Homo sapiens: one gene and its partners. The protein of the gene in region 4 purifies or fractionates together with the protein of the main gene of each other region. This does not show direct contact. Each region holds a gene or a part of one and is shown on either strand. Other genes may lie near its edges. The genes, in order: WDR4, EIF2AK4, CHORDC1, EIF2A and EIF2AK1.

Region 1 (3,519 bases), on a different chromosome or scaffold from region 4:
AATTTGAAATACGAGATTTCCCTCACACAGGAGGAAGTCTGGCATTGAGAGCAAACGTTTCCAACGGCGAAGTGACTTTTCCACTCAAGTCAGGCGACTGCCGGTGTCTACAAGCACTCAGTCGCCCAGGAGTGAACAGAAGCAGCTACCTGGGGGGCCTGGGGGTCCACCAGCTCCTGCAGACTGGCCAGGTGACAGCAGTGCAGCTGGCGGCCGCTCCTGTACTCCCAGAGCCTCAGGGTGCCGTCCTGCACAAACCAAACACACAGGTTAGCACATGGTTGTGGGGCTTCCGTCAGGTAGGGTGACAGAGAGGACAGCTGCGTGTGGTCGGGGTTCCACTCCGTGACAGCCATGCCACCCACCCTCAGGAATTAAAGGCTCTCTGCTCTGACTGTGTAAATCGCTCATGCAAATCATCAAGGACAACGGTGGGGAACGGAAGGTGACCGATTCCCTGTTTCTCGAGTGCCAATATGCCCAGGCAGATGACAAAGCCAATGAGGCAGATCCTAGCAAAATAAGCCAAGGCCGCTAGATGGCCAGGTTGTCATCCGCCAGGAGGCCAGACCACATCTGCTGTGCCCGGGCCGGGCATAGACACGGGCATGCACACAGGTCTGCGCAGACACTTCAGCAATCATGCATTCCCACGGGGAGACACGTGTGGGCTCATGAGCTCGTGGCCACTGCTCCACTTCACTAAGAATGACAGGAAGGACATGGCCATCAGCAACCGTCCCACGACAACTGGTACAACCCTTCAGGAAGCCGACACAGGAACCAAGAGGCTCCACGCTCTAAAACCATCATCAATGGAAAAAAGCGTTTCTCTTTTTTTTCTTGGTTTTATCTGTTGTTATTTTTTTGTTGTTTAATTGAAATGGGGTCTATTCCACACTGCCCACTGCACTGCAGTGGCTATTCACAGGCTTGCTCCTGGCTCACTGCAGCCTCTGACTCCCAGGCCCAGGCAATCCTCCCGCCTCAGCCTCCGAGTAGCTGGGACTACAGGCATGAGCCACCATACCTGGCTTAAAAAAAATTCATTACAGCACTAATTCAGTGGAGAGAAATAAATCAATACTCATTAAATCTAATGAGAGAGTGTCTGTGCACTATTTGTAAGTATTTTTAAATGACTAAATGAAAAAGATGAAAAGTAAATACCCCAAACAGCTAACAGTAGATGCATATCCTCTGGGTGCCGAGGTAAGAGTGGATGTATGAATGCACACACACACGCATGCACATACACACGCACACACACACACCTTTCTACAAATGTGGCAGATAAACATGGAGACCAACACACACATCTACAGGCATTTCACTCACCCCCAAACCTCTCTACGAAGACAAGAAAAAGATGTTTAATAACCATGAACCCACTAAGACAAAGACAACAGGCAAGAAGAGAAGGCAGCCGCGGAGAGACAGCAAGGAAACCTGGGGGCTGGAGGCCAGGGAACAAATGCACCAGCCACAGAGAAGCCCGAGAGGTGCCAGGACCTGCCAAAGACCAAACCGGGCCAGGCAGCCTGAAGACCAAGGTGGTGAGGGGAGCTGTCAAATGTCTTTACAAAGAGAAACGGGACCTCCCTGATGCATCCTCAGCCCCAAACTCCAGGCCAGCAGAAGGCTCTGGGGAAACGGAGCCGAGGGGCCCCTGTCTCGGGGATGCCAAATACTCACTGAGAAGAGAGTCACCTAGCCCCTTCGCACTCACCTCCCAGAGCCCCAGGGGACAGACCTGGGCAAGAGTGAAGGCCGGGACACTGACCACCCAGAAGAGACCGACTGACCCACACGTTCTACGGAGTCCACAGGCAAGGGGCTGCTGCCCACAGACACCTGCTCTGAAGCCCCTCGGGCCCCACCCTGGGTGCACACACCCAGCCTCTGAGGCCGGCTGGTGCTGACTCCCATCACACACAGGCAGATGGCATCGCCAGACATCCGAGGAAAACCTCCAATGAGAAAGGCAGACAACACACTCCAGAGAAGGCAATCAAACACAAGGCCAGGAAGAAATTGAAGAAAGAAAAGTCCACGCTCATCTCAGTGAGATAAGAGACACGTGCACTATCCGAGAATGGGTGGCTGCAAAAAAGAACGTGCCGAGGGCAAGAAAGAACTAAAGATTCAAAATAATCCTAATAAAACTCAAGTCTCCACAGAAGGCTGGAAAGTAAAGTTGAGGCAATCTCCCAAGAAGTAAGACTATTCCTAAAGGAGTAGAAATACGAGATTGAACAGGAAAGAAAAAAAAACAGAGAATTATGGCCCAGCATGGTGGCTCTCGCCTATAATCCCAGTGGGCGGAAGTGGGTGGATCGCTTGAGGTCAAAAGTTTGAGACCAGCCTGGCCAAGCTGGCAAAACCCCATCACTACAAAAGTATAAAAAATTAGCGGGGCATGGTGGTGTGTGCCTGTAATACTAGCTACTCGGGAGGCCTGAGGTGGGAGGATTGCTTGAGCCCGGGAGGCAGAGGCTGCAGTGAACCGAGATCACGCCACTGCACTCCAGACTGGGAGACAGAGCAAGACTCTGTCTCAAAAAAAATAAGAATCAGAGCATTAAAGTGGTTCAACTAACACAAGCTTTAGAAAAAGTGAGCAAGAGGCAGGGGTAGAGAACAGAAGGTAATCATGTAAGAAAATGCCCCAGGTCGGAGGACACTGAAAATCACTGGCTGTGTGGCCAACTCCCCTCTGGGGCCCACCAAGTCACCTCAGTGGCTTTCACATCGCACACTGGAGCAGAGAAAGTCCTCCAGGCAGAAGGAGAGCCCAGCTGTCACCCCACGGACCCACGGCAGACAGCTGCAGGTTTCTACAGGAAGCGCGCGGGAAAACCCACAGGAGCAACCAGCTGGAGAGCACACTGTGCAAGGCCTCCCAAGCTCCGAGGGAAACCGTTTCAACCAGGACTTCTACGCCAAACTAACAACCAGGCCTCAAAGGAGATTAAAGGTATTTCCAGAAAAGCAAAGTCAGAAAACACTGACCCTCCTCGCGCCTTTTGGCAGCTACCAGATGACGTGTTCCACTCAAACAAAGCAGTAAGCCATGAGGGACAGATGGGGCCTGGGGAGGCTTCTCTGCCCGTGGAAGATTTTCCTCATATTATGAAAAAGACTGGAAGGTGCACAACAAACCGCTGACGAAGCCTGACCCTGACCCTGACCCTCTGGAGATTATGGCCACACTTTTCTTCTTCTCTCAGGTCGCGTGGCTGTGTGTTAATTTGAAGAGCAGGAACAGGAGGCTGTGAATGAAGCCCAATCAGAGAAGAAACATAGAAGCGGCCAGAAGGTCCATCAGCCATCCTGCCACACCACACAAAGGACCAACACAGACAACACAGGGAAGGACAGCGAAGAGGAAGGTGGTGGTGTGCGGGCAACAATTCCGCAAGAGGACAGAATCAGACCCTGTGAGGAATCCAAGGCCCTCACTTTGGCAAAATCACTAACAATCCTTCTAACACATTCCTTAGAGAAAACACGTCTCTC
Region 2 (3,519 bases), on a different chromosome or scaffold from region 4:
AATTTATAGATAGTTACAAATTACTAACTTATTTTGGCTAGCTTTCCACAGCAGCAAAAGGTCTGCTCATTTATAATTTGATAGCTTTTGGAAACATCCCTCCAAAAAACTTGCTTCAATCCCTGGATCCCCCAGTAGTGTATGGTGGTGTTTGTTTTCCTTTATCTTCAACAATACTATATATGTTAGACTTTTTCATCTTTGCCACATAAATGAAACATATCTCATTTTAATTTTTATTTATTTATAAATTATCTAGAACACCTTTGTTTACAAACCATTGATTTTTCTTTTTCTGTGAACTGCTCATACTCTGGTTTATTTTTCTACTCTGTGGTCCATTTTCTTGTTTATTTGTAAGAGCTAAATATCTTAAGAAAACTAGCATTTTGGGTCATATAATGCATATATTTTTCTCCTAATTATATGCATTTATTTACGTAATTTATGTGATTTAAAAAATGTTGATAGAGTCAAAATGACCTTTTTTTTCTTTTATGGTCCCTGTGGGTTTTTTTTCCCCCTCTGTTCCAATGTTACTAAAAACCAAATTCGTCAAAGTTTACTTTTAACTTGTTCATGACTTCGTTTTTAAATTTTCATCAAATAAAGATATAAGTAGGTTTTTTTTTTTAAGTTCTTCGTTCCATCAAAGTACGGGCCTAGGCCACCTCCCCGTGTGCATCCCTCCTCCTCCAGCTAGGCAGCTAGACAAATATAGGCAATTGAATTTTTCAGTGTCTTCCACTCATTTGAAATGCCATTCCTACAAGCCCAGTGCCTGGTAAAACAAACAAAAAACTTTCAAAAATTGTTACTGAATGAAATAATTCTCAAATGTATTTCAAGTCTCTTTTTTTCCTTGCCTGGAATGCTTGGTCTCTTGGCTTGTCTCAGCTTCAATGCTACATCCTCAGATAGTTCTTCTTTGATAACCACATTTAAGTATATACCCTCACACCCCAAGTCGTTTGTTAAGGAGAGCACCACGTCATCTCTTCAACGGCACTCTCTAAGCTTGTACTTATGTGTTTATTATGTTTGTTTTCCCCCACCAGACTGAAGTTCCATGAGAGCTGGAACCATATCTGTGTTCTCACCTCCGTGGACTAAGCACAGTGCCTGACACAGAGTCAGTGCTTAGCAAATATGGGTGATGGATGTGTGATGGGTGAATGAGTGGATGAAAGACCTGTGGACCAAAGAGTGCTTAACCCTTCCCCAGACCACATTCGCAGAATTATGCTTTATGGAAGGACCCACACATTTATCAAGGATTATTATAAAGCCATATAAGAACTGATCTTACAAATTTTGTACACATAGTAGAAGAGTACAGTGTTTATTATATGGTACTCCTTGTAAGGTTCACGTTATAAATTTCTGTTAGAATTTAGTATTATAAGTACTTTGCTTCCCTAAAATAATTTTTAGGCTTTCTCTTTTCTGATGATACCACGTTTCTCTTTTTGCCCTGCCTGCCAGGACATTCAGAGAAAAAAATCAAGGCTCAATCCCAGCAACTTAGGATGGCATAATAAAAGAGTGGCTTATGGGAGGAGACAGGGTTTGGAGTTAAGGCTGGGTTTGAATCCCAGCTCTGTCCCTGTGTATCTGTAGGCAAGAATGTAAAACTCCCTGAGCCTGAGCTTCTGTATCTGTAAAATGGAGATGACACCTGCCTTGCAAAGTTGGTAAGGTGCCTGGACCATGGGAGCGCTCAGCCATTGTTTTTTCTCTCAGACTCCCCTTGTTCATTATATACATATAATATGAACTACTTCAAATCCACTTTGGAAAAAGTGTATCTAAATTGAAGAACAAGGGTATTTTGCGATTTGGTGAAAAGTAGTTGATTGAAAACATATGCAATTCTCTCCTTGTCAAGGGTTTTCATTTGTTAATATCTCAGTATTCAGATCTCAATTCAAATCTCCCCTGCTCGCAGAGTCCTTCACTGACCTACCTGTCCAGATACCTTCTCCTCGCCCACCACTATGTCCCTCTACTCTGCTTTGTTTTCTTTACAGCACTCATCACTATTTGAAATCACTCGTCTTCTAGTTTGTATCAGCTGGTTGGGACTGTGTCTGTCTAAATTTACCCCTGCACTCCCAGCTTCCAGGAGAGCACCCAGGCATAATAACTCAGTAACATCTGAACGAATGGAAGCTGAGTGGAACATTTTGGTTCATTCCTTAGATAACTTAAAAAAGGAAAGTGCATTTTCACTGGCTTAGGTTTTGTTTTTAAATCATGCTTTTGGAAAGTATGCCAGATTATCTATTTAAAATATAATTACAAATATTTTTAAAGTAGAACTTTTGATCTAAAATGATCATTATCTTAATCATTAATGATTGGCTCTACAGCTTTGAAAAAAATTTTTTTTGTTTTTCCTCTTTTAGGTCAAAGAGCCCCCTGAAATCAATTTAGTTTTGTACCCTCAAGGCCTAACTGGTGAAGAAGTATATGTAAAAGTGGATTTGAGGGTTAAATGCCCACCTACCTATCCAGATGTGTGAGTACATTTATAAATAGCTTTGACGTGGTTTCAGTTTTCTGTTTTGACAACATAGAAACAGATTGAAATTCGTAGTATTTTCTCCTTCCTGCTCCCATTCCACATAAAATTTCATTTCCTCTATTTCAACAAAACTACATCAGCAATAGATGTTTTCATGAAACCTGTCTCATTTTAAGCCTGTTCATAGTTATAGAATTGTCACTACAGATACTTATATTTGCCTAGTGACTATTTTGCTTCCTCTGATGTGTTAACTTTTGTTTATTTATTTCTTCATAAGTTAGGAAGAGGAAAATTTGGAAGAAAACAATAAAGGCATGGTGACTGTTGAAAGCCCTTGCATAGTTAGAGTGTGGCTGGTATTAGAAATTCAGCAAGTCTGTGCCTCAGATGACCTTTCACTGCCTAGAGTGAGGGAGAGTATTTGGATCTGTCCTGCCTCTCAATGGGGCACTCTGGCGAGTGTCCATTGTGCAGGGCTGTGCTGTGCACTGCAGTACGTTTAGCATCCCTGGCCCCCACCTACCAATGCCACGAGTGTCCTCCAGGCATTGAAACAACCAAATAACCTACATATTTCCAGACTCCCTCTGAAGGTGATGTCACCTCTGGTTGAGAAAAACTAGTTAGAGCCAAAGTGTTAGCCATCAGCACTTAAGCATGTCTATTTGGTGTAATCTTTCCCCACCCATCCCACATGGAAAGGCAGGTTGGCCTGGATGGCGTTAAGTAGTTTGAAATTATTGTATGGGGAACCAGTGAAGGTTTTTGAGATGGAAAGGGACAAGTAAAAGGAAACTCTGCTTTACACAGTGGGTGGTAAATTTATGGAATTTATTATCCTAAGAAGTGATAGGGAGGATATGAAAAGACAGATAAGTCAAAATTGAGCTCCTTGAAGTCAGTAACCATTCTTGGCCCCCAAAACTGTCCTGAGAGTATTATAGTAGGTATACTATACATACTATAAAAATATTAATTAACGAAACGTT
Region 3 (3,519 bases), on a different chromosome or scaffold from region 4:
CCTAGACTTTCCAAGATTATTGGATTTCACAGTCCAGAAGATTTCAGACAAAATGCGTATACATCAATACAGGGATACTAGTTGACCAAGTAAGAAGTTAAACATTGCATTGACAAAAGAAATACTATTTTAATATTAGAAGGGGCATATTCAGAGAAAAGGACAATCTTGCTGAAAAAAGACAACTAGCAACCTTATATTCACATAACTTAAATTTATCTTTCCTTTTCTCATTGTACTGAAGACTAGCATAGAATCCAGATTGGCATTTGGGAACAGCTGGCCTGTATTGTATTTTACATGTGTGTATCACAGTATCTGACATAATTTAGTACATGATTAAGACAGTAAAACTTTTTCTCTTATAGAATAACTTTTCTGTTGACTATATTATTGATGCTATTTAAACCCTATATTTAAGGTTGTAGTAATTGATCTACATCTCAATTCGGAGTAAAAGATAATTAAATTTCAAATTAAAGGAAAATTTGAATTATAGGATATTTGAAATTACCTTTAAAGAAAAAGAACCTACAGGTGCATATAATGAGAAAAATCACTACCATATTTTTATGCAGTCTTTTGAAAATCAGCGAGGTCCAGGCGGATGTGTGCAAAGTTGCATCTTAATCTGAATTTAGTCCCAAATCTTAATCTGAAGTTCCAAGTTTTGAGATTTTGCATTTTTGTTTCCCTATGCTCTATAAACATTGGAATTTAGAGATAATTATTAAAGCCATTTTTTGGTAAACTACTTGATAGTTTGTTCAAAAATCACAAATACTAATAGTTTCTCTGTCTTTATGCTTCTCACTGAAAAGATCACCTTCAAAGGCTTAATAGTGCTTTAGCTGCTGTGTTAATTAATCTTTGTTGTTCTGAAAATAGAATGCTTATTGTGAAATTAAAATTAACTAAAGATAGTTACTATCTTTAACTTAATAGATTTTAAAAGTAAAATACCTATACTTATTTTGAATATTCTTTAAATATGATAGTTTTAGGAATTATAACATGTTTTTCTTCTAAAAAAAAAGCAGACACGATTGTTGAAAAGAGAAACAGTTTTTGTTTTATAAAGGTGCTTCCCTTGATGATAGGGCATAGCACAAATCACTTTAACATTGGTTAATTGGCTTTTTAAAAATCAAAGATTAATATTCATTTTACTTGATTAGGTGAATTATATGCAACACTGAAATTTTGCACTCTATACGCAAGTTACTGCAGGATTCAAGTAGATAAGTGCAAGTAGAGTGTTTTAGTGGGTCGTGTTTCTCATGCAAATAGAGTTTTTAGTTTCCTTCTCTTGTTTTTCATAGGGTTGGTCTTGCTGTAAGAGAAGAACAACTGATTTTTCTGATTTCTTAAGCATTGTAGTAAGTACTAATTATTTTTTCTAGATTATCTTCCTAAAAATACATGTTATAGAAAGCTTCAGATTTGAGGAGTCTGATTTCTGATATAGATTGATTGGTCTTCATCAACTTGCAGATAACACCTTTCAAAAAGCAGCTCATCTCCCTTCCACAGCTTGTAAAATAAAGAATCTGTTTTGGAAATTAACGTTTTAAGGTATCAGTTACCTGCTTATCATTTTAGGTTTGTTCTTTCTGTTATGTTGAAAGAACATCAAGGAGAAAGTGGTAAGCAACAATTTAAAGCCTTTTCAGTTAGGAACGATAAAGTTTTATCTAAGATGCTGTTGAAATATTTTACATACCACTTTTATATAAAACCACTTTATATACCACTAAGAAAACTAAAGCTACTAACAAACTGATAATGCTATTGATTGTATCATTTCAGAGGTGTTAAAGAGTATGTATAATTCAGTAGAATGTAGTAGAAAAGTAGCTAACGTTTGTTGAATGTTATCACCTGCCAAATGTGCCAGGCATTTTATTATTTAACTCTCTCAGAAAATATCTTACCTGACATTACCTCCATTTTACAAATGAGGAGATGGAGGTTTAAAAAGATTATCTTGCTTAAGGTCATATAACTAATAAGTATGTTGAGAACTAGGTCTCAAATTGAGGCCTTTCGAGTAACAGATTTTTCTGTATAACTATTTTTTACAGTTCTTTGTGAGATTCTCCAGAATTCTTCTGTAAACAAGAGGTTTATGCCATATTTTTAATAGAATAAGTAGATGTTTATGAAGTGTAATTCAAAGACTTTTTAAAAAAGCCGTCATTCAGAGATTCAGCAAATATGGCAAATTTGGAGTTCTGTTTTTAATTTCTTAAAATCAATGTATTGAAACTGGAGAAAACATGAAATAGAATCACTATCAATAAAGAACTGAAAAGATAATATTTCTATCATGAAATGTAAAATAGATAGCTCTTAATGAATTATCTTTCACTAACAGGGCTGTACAAAAGGTAGACATAATAGTGAGAAGCCACCTGAGCCAGTCAAACCTGAAGTCAAGACTACTGAGAAGAAGGAGCTATGTGAATTAAAACCCAAATTTCAGGAACACATCATTCAAGCCCCTAAGCCAGTAGAAGCAATAAAAAGACCAAGGTATACTTTATACAGTTACATATTTTTGTCACACTTGAATAGTAGCACTTGTGCATGGTACTTTCCTTTATGATTTAGCATGATACCATTTGTAGCTACTATGTAGGCCACCAAGCTTTGAACCATTTGGTTTCTCCCTTAAATCTGCCTTAAATTTTTATTTCTCTTCAACTTGAGAGCATGTACACAATATAACTACATAACAGATTTGCATATTGTACTGTCATAATTACAGGGACATGTATCATCAGGGTAGGGAAGTCACATTTTTCTTGTGCCTTAGAGTGCATCTTTTTCACTGTGGCATGGTAAAATTCTTTGAAGCAGTTTTCCTTTTCATGGCATGAGTTTGAAGTAGAAAATAATGCAGAGGCCTAATCATCCATCTTTACTTTCAGATGCCTGAAAACTACCGTTAATCTCATTACTACTGGTCAATTTTTAATGCATTTGATTTAGATGACATATTTGTGAAAGTAGTCTTAAAAAAGCGTTTGCTCATTGTGCAATAGAGTTGTACAGATTCTTCATACTTGCCTTCTGATAACCAGACTCTGTATTCCCACACATGTATATTGAGTACCTTTGTTGAACCAGGTCTTCTTCGTGCTACACTTGAGTACTAAATTGTTTTAGAAGCAAACTACAGGACTTAAAAAAAGGTGATTTTTTTTTTTTTTTTTGGCTGCAAGTAGGCACTTATTGTAATTTTTATTCATGCTATGAACTCATGATTTTCCCTTTATTCTCCTTTGATCCTACTTAAATAAATTTATAGAGTATTGAATAATATAGAACCAAGATAAGAACCCTAAGAGACTTTAGATGTTTATTTGTTCATTAGCACTCTGAGTACAGATTATTGCTAAGGAAACTACTCAGGATGATTTTATTCTCTCTCCATCTTCATAGTTAGAGGAGACCATTGAATGCTTTGGCCAGTTTAGCAGTTAGAAAAATAATTGGGAAAAGACAAAACTTCAG
Region 4 (3,519 bases):
TGCACTCCAGCCTGGGCAAAAAGATGAGACTCCGTCTCAAAAAAAAAAAAAAAAAAAATTGGGAAACTAAAATAAGTGATTCTAGCTTTATATCAGGTTGGTGGCATAACCATGTGAAGACCTGCAAAATTCTTTTTTTTTGAGACTGAGTTTTGCCCTTGTTGCCCAGGCTAGAGTGCAGTGGTGCAATCTCGGCTTAATGCAACCTCTGCCCCCCAGGTTCAAGCGATTCTCCTGCCTCAGCCTCCCAAGTAGGTGGGATTACAGGTGCCTGCCACCATGCCTGGCTAATTTTTTTGTATTTGTAGTAGTGACAGAGTTTCACCGTGTTGGCCAGGCTAGTCTCAAACTCCTGACCTCAGGTGATCCACCTGTCTCATCCTCCCAAAGTGCTGGGATTACAGACGTGAGCCACCATGCCTGGCCTAATAGTTTTCTTTTTAACTGAAAGTTGATATTGTCATTTGAATCTACTATAGGATAGAGTAAATTAATTGTATTAATGTTGTTAGGCACCAAGATTTTTCAGCATTAGAGTGAAAAGATAGACTTGCCTATATCAGTATGAACTCATGATTTCCTTTCATAAAACATTTGCATTTCCTAGTTCTGGCCAATGAAAAGGCCTGGAAGCAGTGATAACACAGTAGCAGTGAATACCCCATCCTCACAGATTGTGATCTCTAAATACAATTCTTCACTAAAAGGAACCACTTCCTTGGAGAAGTGGTCAACTCTAGGTCTGGGACAGAAAATGTACAAGTTGAGGTAGCAACTTTTGTGCCAGAAAGCAAAGCTATAAAAGACTAATGAGATTTTGTTAAAGGGTCGTAGGAAGCAACTTGAAGAGATTCACACCAACCTAAGATGGGAACATTAAGAATTATGAATAGAAAGATAAAGCATGTCAAGTATATAAATGCTCCCCCGAAAAATCCCCCCTCCGTTTAAACCTAACTGGTCAGCATTGGTGGTTGATGGAGTCCTCACTCATTACTTTGAAAATTGATAAATAAAGGGAAGGAGTCAAGCATTTATCTTGCCTTTCTTATACAAACTGTTTCTCAGAGTAACCAAGTGGTTGATGAGAAAAAGAATTTTATAGACGAATTCCAGTTAATAAATGGAGAATGGATGCTGGATCAGACAATTACCATTTTGTAATCCTCAAGAAATGGATCTAGGCCACTGGTTCTCAAACTTTACCAAGCATCAGAATCATCTGAAAAGCTCGTTAAAATCCAGATTGCAGCTCTCTTTCCAAATGTTCGGATTCATTAGATCAGCGGTAGGGCCCAATAATTTGCATTTTTAACAAATTCCCCAGTGATACTGATGCTGCAAATCTGGGGACCCCCCTTTAAGAACCACTGATCTAGGCAGATGATCATCAAAAGATGCTGAAACCTTTAGCTGAACTGTTTGATGACTGTTAATGGGGAACTTTATAATCAGGCTGTTGTCATCTGACTCTACTGACCAATTTTTATTAGGCCCAGTTCTCTAGAACCTTGCTACAGGAAGCATGGGCCCAACCAAGACCAACTATATTGGCATCACTCCTGAGCCAGTACAGAAATGCATCTCAGGCCCTACCCAACTTACTGAATCAGAATCTGTATTTTAGCTAGATCTTCAGATGATTTATATGCACTTTTTTTTTTCCAGAGTCTTGCTCTGCTGCCCAGGCTAGAATGGAGTGGTGTAATCATGGCCCACTGTAGCCTCAATCTCCCAGGCTCAAACAATACTCCTGCCTCAGTATCCCAAGTAGCTGGGACTATAGGCGCATGCCACCATGCCTGGCTAATTTTTGTATGTTTTGTAGAGATGGGGGTCTCACTATGTTGCCCAGGCTGCTCTCCAACTCCTGGGCTCAAGAGATCCAACCGCCTTGGCCTCCCAAAGTGCTGGGATTACAGGCCTCAGCCACCATGCCTGGCCTGTATGCACATTATTTATTTATTTACTTATTTATTTATTTTTTTTGAGATGGAGTTTCACTCTTGTTGCCCAGGCTGGAGTGCAATGGTACAATCTCGGCTCACTGCAACCTCTGCTTCCTGGGTTCAAGCGATTCTCCTGCCTCAGCCTCCCAAGTAGCTGGGATTATAGGCACCTGCTACCACACCTGGCTAAATTTTTTTATTTTTAGTAGAGACGTGGTTTCACCATGTTGGCCAGGCTGGTCTCGAACTTCTGACCTCAGGTGATTCACCCTCCTTGGCCTCCCAAAGTGCTGGGATTACAGGTGTGAGCCACCACACCCGGCCATGTATGCACATTAATGTTTGAGAAGCACTACTCTAGAAAACCCAGTCTGGCTGGGCGCGGTGGCTCATGCCTGTAATCCCAGCGCTTTGGGAGGCCAAGGTGGGTGGATCACTTGAGCCCAGGAGTTCAGGATGAGCCTGGGCAGTATGGCAAAACCCCATATCTATTTAAAAAACAAAAAACAAAAAAAAAACTATGGCAAAGTTATGTGCTACACTTCATTAGGGTATGCAGTCCCAAGGCTGCAGGAGTAGGGGAGAAAGGGAAATGAGACAGGGAAGGAGTTAAAGCAAGTATGATGGGATATACTGAGGTGACCACAAATCCACAAAATATAGCCAACTTGCTTGGTCATGTGTGCAAAATTTTTGTCTCCAGAAAGGCTGTATGGAACATTTGTACTTCAGAACAGTCTGTTGTGTGGAGACAGGGTAAGAAGTTTACTACAGCCTCTTAGCCTGTTTGGGTTGAATCTGAGTGCCAGAGCTCCTCCATGTGCTGCCGCAGTGCATGGTGGAAGCCATGTGGAAGTATGGCCCTTAACTCTGCAGATTCAAAGACAACCAGTGGCGTTAGGAGATGAGGTCTCTTCATTGAATAGTTGAGGCGTGGCAGCAGGAAGAGTTAGGTAGATACAAGGAGGCACATGACTGAATCCAGTACAATCTCAGTATCACTAAGAGTAGAACAGAGAGATATTTATGTGTCTCCTGGTGAGTTATTATACAGTAGGAACTGTGCTGTACATATCTTCTACGAAAGTTAAAAAAACTTCAAACTCAGAATTTAGTCAGTCTTTTACATGAGTAGTTCTCAAATGTGGCTGCACAATAGAATGACCTGGGGAGCTGTTAAAAAACCCAGATATCCAATCCAAGTATTGGGTATTAAATGATATTAAGAAGTTAATTTTGTGAGATGAAGTGGCATGGTGGTGATTATGTTTTTAAAAAAATATACTCACTGGTTAGAGATGCATAATCAAGTATAGAGCAATATGATAATGACATCTAGTTTTTGCGTTGGAATGTTGTGGCATGAAAGATAAAAGTGGGGAATAGATAAAATTGGCTCTGAGTTAATAGTTACTTAAGCTTGATGATGAGTGCATAGGTGGATTATCATACTTTTTCTCTATTTTTTGTGTATGTTTGAAATTTTTCATTCAAAAAATTATACCAGAAGGAAAGAGGCAAAATTTCCCAATTGCCAAGACCAAGAAAATAATCGAATTCTGGATTCTGT
Region 5 (3,519 bases), on a different chromosome or scaffold from region 4:
AGAGTCTTACTATGTCACCCAGACTGGAGCACACTGGTTACTCACAGGAGTGATCAAAGCACACTGAAGGCCGAGGCGGGTGGATCACCAGGTCAGGAGTTCGAGACCAGCCTGAACAACATGGTGAAACCCCGTCTCTATTAAAAATACAAAAATTACCCGGGCATGGTGGCACGTGCCTACCCCAGCTACTCGGGAGGGTGAGGCAGGAGAATCACTTGAACCCGGGGGGCGGAGATTGCAGTGAGCGGAAATCGCGCCAATGCACTCCAGCCTGGGCAACAGAGTGAGACTCCATCTCGAGAAAAAAAAAAATTGTGAGCATTATCATAGTATAGATGCAAAAGAACTATATTTCATTTATTCAATTTTATGCAATTATGGGATCCACAGTTATATTTGTAAGGAATTACTCAAAGAAAAATGTAAGCTGAATTGAAGTAGGGAAATCATTAATATTTATTTCACTCCAATTTTTGTATACCAGACGCTTTCCAGACTCACAGCATTAAACAACATATTTTTATTTTGTATTTTTAATTTTTGTGAGTATATGGTAGATGTATATATTTATGGGGGTACATGAGATATTTTGATACAGACATGTGATGTGTAATAATCACATCAGGATAAATGGGGTATCCATCATCTAAAGCATTTATCCCTTCTTTGTGTTACAAACAATCCAATTATATTCTTTTCGTTATTTTTATTTTGTTGAGACTGAGTCTTGCTCTGTCGCCAGGCTGGTGTGCAATGGCGCGATCTCAGCTCACTGCAACCTCCGCCTCCCAGGTTCAAATGATTTTCCAGCCTCAGCCTCCCAAATTACAGCTGGGATTACAGGTGCCCGCCACCATGCCCAGCTAATTTTTGTATTTTTAGTAGAGACAGGGTTTCACCATGTTAGCCAGGATGGTCTCGATCTCTTGACCTCATGATCCACCTGCCTCAGTCTCCCAAAGTGCTGGGATTACAGGCGTGAGCCACCGCGCCCAGCCCATTCTTTTTTTTTTTTTTTTTGAGATGGACTTTAGCTCTTGTTGCCCAGGCTGGAGTGCAGTGGCGTGATCTCGGCTCACTGCAACCTCCGCCACCCGGGTTCAAGCAATTCTCCTACCTCAGCCTCCCAAGTAGCTGAGATTACAGCCATGTGCCATTACGCCTGGGTAGTTTTGCATTTTTTTTTTAATAGAGATGGGATTTCACCATGTTGGTCAGGCTGGTCTCAAACTCCTGACCTCAAGTGATTCACCCACCTTGGCCTCCCAAAGTGCTGGGATTACAGGCATGAGCCACTGCACCTGGCCATCTTTTTTATTATTTTTTAAATGTACAATAAATTATTGTTGACTGTAGTCACTCTGCTGTGCTATCAAATACTAGATCCAATTTATTCTAACTATATTTTTGTACCCATTAACCATCCTCCACTATCCTCCCAGCCTCTGGGAACCATCATTCTACTCTATCTCCATTAGTTCAATTGTTTTAATTTTTACCTCCCATGAATAAGTGAGAACAGCAACACAGTATTTTTACAAGCTTTATTTATTTATTTTTGAGACAGTCTCACTCTTTCACCCAGGCTGGAGTGCAGTGGCGCTATCTCGGCTCACTGCAACCTCCACCTCCCCAGTTCAACTGATTCTCCGCCTCAGCCTCCCGAGTAGCTGGGGTTACAGGTGCCTGCCACAACACCCGGCTAATTTCCATATTTTGAGTAAAGAGGGGGTTTCGTCATGTTAGCCAAACCGATCTCGATCTCCGGACCTCGGGTGATCCGCCCACCTCAGCCTCCCAAAGTGCTGGGATTACAGGCATGAACCACGGAGCCCAGCCTTTACAAGCTTTATTTAGCAAGATTCATTTATTCTTACTTACGCTTAAACACCTGTCTTGAACGAAGTGGGTTTGGTTCATGCACGTGGCTCAAGTGCTCCAGCAAAGAAACCAGCAAGAGTTGGTTTGCAACTGCAAAAGGGAAGGTTGGCTGTTGTAGGGGTTCTTTTAACACCTGGATTTCTGCTGGAACATCAGATTCTAAAAATTAAAAAGGAAAATATTTTTAAATTAATGGTAAACCTGTCTCATAATGACAAAACCGTATATTCTAATTAATGAAACATGAAATATTTAAATGTAAGCAGATAAAAACCAAAAGAATAGTTATGCTGAGTTGGGTTAATCAAGAAAGGCTTTCTGGAAGTGAATTTGGAGCTGAATCCTGGAAGCTGGAGGATCAGCAGAAAGATGCCGTGAGACAGAGGAGAAACAGTTTTCTGATGTGTCCAATAGTACAAATAAATCAATACGCAAGGAAGTGGGACTAGGATGGCTTCCTTCCTTTGAGAAGACAGCCAAGACCCAGGCATAAAGAAAGAAGTTAGGCAGAGGATGGCCGGGCGCGGTTGTTCATGCCTGTAATCCCAGCACTTTGGGAGGCTGAGGCCAGTGGATCACCTGAGGTCAGGAGTTTGAGACCAGCCTGACCAACATGGAGCAACACCATCTCTACTAAAAATACAAAATTAGCCGGGCAGTGGTGGCAGGCGCCTGTAATCCCAGCTACTCAGGAGGCTGAGGCAGGAAAATAGCTTGAACCTGGGAGGCAGAAGTTGCGGTGAGCCGAGATCAACCATTGCATTCCAGCCTTGGCAACAAGAGCGAAACTCCGTCTCAAAAAAAAAAAAAAAAAAAAAGAAGTTGGGCAGATGACAGAGGGAAAGATAGGAAAAATGGAAACTTTTCTCGATGAGCGTGTGCTACTTATCTACATGTACAATCTCCTTCAATGCTCAAAAAATAATATAAGGTAAGTGTTCATCCTCATTTTACAGATGAAAACACTGATCTCAGAGAGGCTGAGGAACCAGTGAACAAGGCAGATCAGACTGACTCCCGAACCCCATCCTCTTTGCACTGTATGAGACCATGCAGACAGACGAGTTGGCACTAAGGCTGAAGGTCGTTAAGTTCTCACTTACTGTTTATTTAAGACATGACTAAACAGGTAAAAAAAAAAAAAAAAAAACCTAGCTGGGCACAGTGGCTCATGCCTGTAATCCCAGCACTTTGAGAGGCCGAGGCAGGCAGATCACCTAAGGTCAGGAGTTCGAGACCAGCCTGGCCAACATGGAGAAACCCTGTCTCTACGAAAAAACAAAATTAGCCAGGCGTGGTGGCGCATGCCTGTAATCAATCCTAGCCACTCAGGAGGCTGAGGCAGGAGAATCCCTTAAACCCAGGAGGCAGAGGTTGAGATGAGCTGAGATCGTGCCATTGCACTCCAGCCTGGGCAACAAAGTGAAACTCTGTCTCAAAAAAAAAAAAAAAAAAAAAAAAAACTAGCTGGGTGTGGTGGCTCACATCTGTAATTCCAGCACTTAGAGAGGCCGAGGCAAGCAGATCACCTGAGGTCAGGAGCTCAGGACCAGCCTGGCCAACACGGTGAAACACCGTCTCTACTAAAAATACAAAAATTAGGTGAGCGTGGTGGTGTGCACCTGTGATCCCAGC

The links.
Region 1: the proteins of EIF2A (region 4) and WDR4 purify together in Homo sapiens (affinity purification with western blotting; one study listed by BioGRID). This does not show direct contact.
Region 2: the proteins of EIF2A (region 4) and EIF2AK4 purify together in Homo sapiens (co-immunoprecipitation; one study listed by IntAct). This does not show direct contact.
Region 3: the proteins of EIF2A (region 4) and CHORDC1 fractionate together in Homo sapiens (co-fractionation; one large-scale study listed by BioGRID). This does not show direct contact.
Region 5: the proteins of EIF2A (region 4) and EIF2AK1 purify together in Homo sapiens (co-immunoprecipitation; one study listed by IntAct). This does not show direct contact.

The regions. Positions count from the first base shown.
Region 1 is NC_000021.9:42,855,533-42,859,051, forward strand, and holds part of WDR4 (tRNA (guanine-N(7)-)-methyltransferase non-catalytic subunit WDR4), read right to left. Parts: intron 249-3,519; coding exon 150-248; intron 1-149. UniProt on the Homo sapiens protein: Non-catalytic component of the METTL1-WDR4 methyltransferase complex required for the formation of N(7)-methylguanine in a subset of RNA species, such as tRNAs, mRNAs and microRNAs (miRNAs).
Region 2 is NC_000015.10:39,937,097-39,940,615, forward strand, and holds part of EIF2AK4 (eIF-2-alpha kinase GCN2), read left to right. Parts: intron 1-2,408; coding exon 2,409-2,521; intron 2,522-3,519. UniProt on the Homo sapiens protein: Metabolic-stress sensing protein kinase that phosphorylates the alpha subunit of eukaryotic translation initiation factor 2 (EIF2S1/eIF-2-alpha) in response to low amino acid availability.
Region 3 is NC_000011.10:90,213,034-90,216,552, reverse strand, and holds part of CHORDC1 (cysteine and histidine-rich domain-containing protein 1), read left to right. Parts: intron 1-1,322; coding exon 1,323-1,379; intron 1,380-2,377; coding exon 2,378-2,535; intron 2,536-3,132; exon of another isoform or gene 3,133-3,197; intron 3,198-3,519. UniProt on the Homo sapiens protein: Regulates centrosome duplication, probably by inhibiting the kinase activity of ROCK2. Proposed to act as co-chaperone for HSP90. May play a role in the regulation of NOD1 via a HSP90 chaperone complex. In vitro, has intrinsic chaperone activity.
Region 4 is NC_000003.12:150,553,285-150,556,803, forward strand, and holds part of EIF2A (eukaryotic translation initiation factor 2A), read left to right. Parts: intron 1-3,519. UniProt on the Homo sapiens protein: Functions in the early steps of protein synthesis of a small number of specific mRNAs. Acts by directing the binding of methionyl-tRNAi to 40S ribosomal subunits.
Region 5 is NC_000007.14:6,052,662-6,056,180, forward strand, and holds part of EIF2AK1 (eukaryotic translation initiation factor 2-alpha kinase 1), read right to left. Parts: intron 2,044-3,519; coding exon 1,885-2,043; intron 1-1,884. UniProt on the Homo sapiens protein: Metabolic-stress sensing protein kinase that phosphorylates the alpha subunit of eukaryotic translation initiation factor 2 (EIF2S1/eIF-2-alpha) in response to various stress conditions.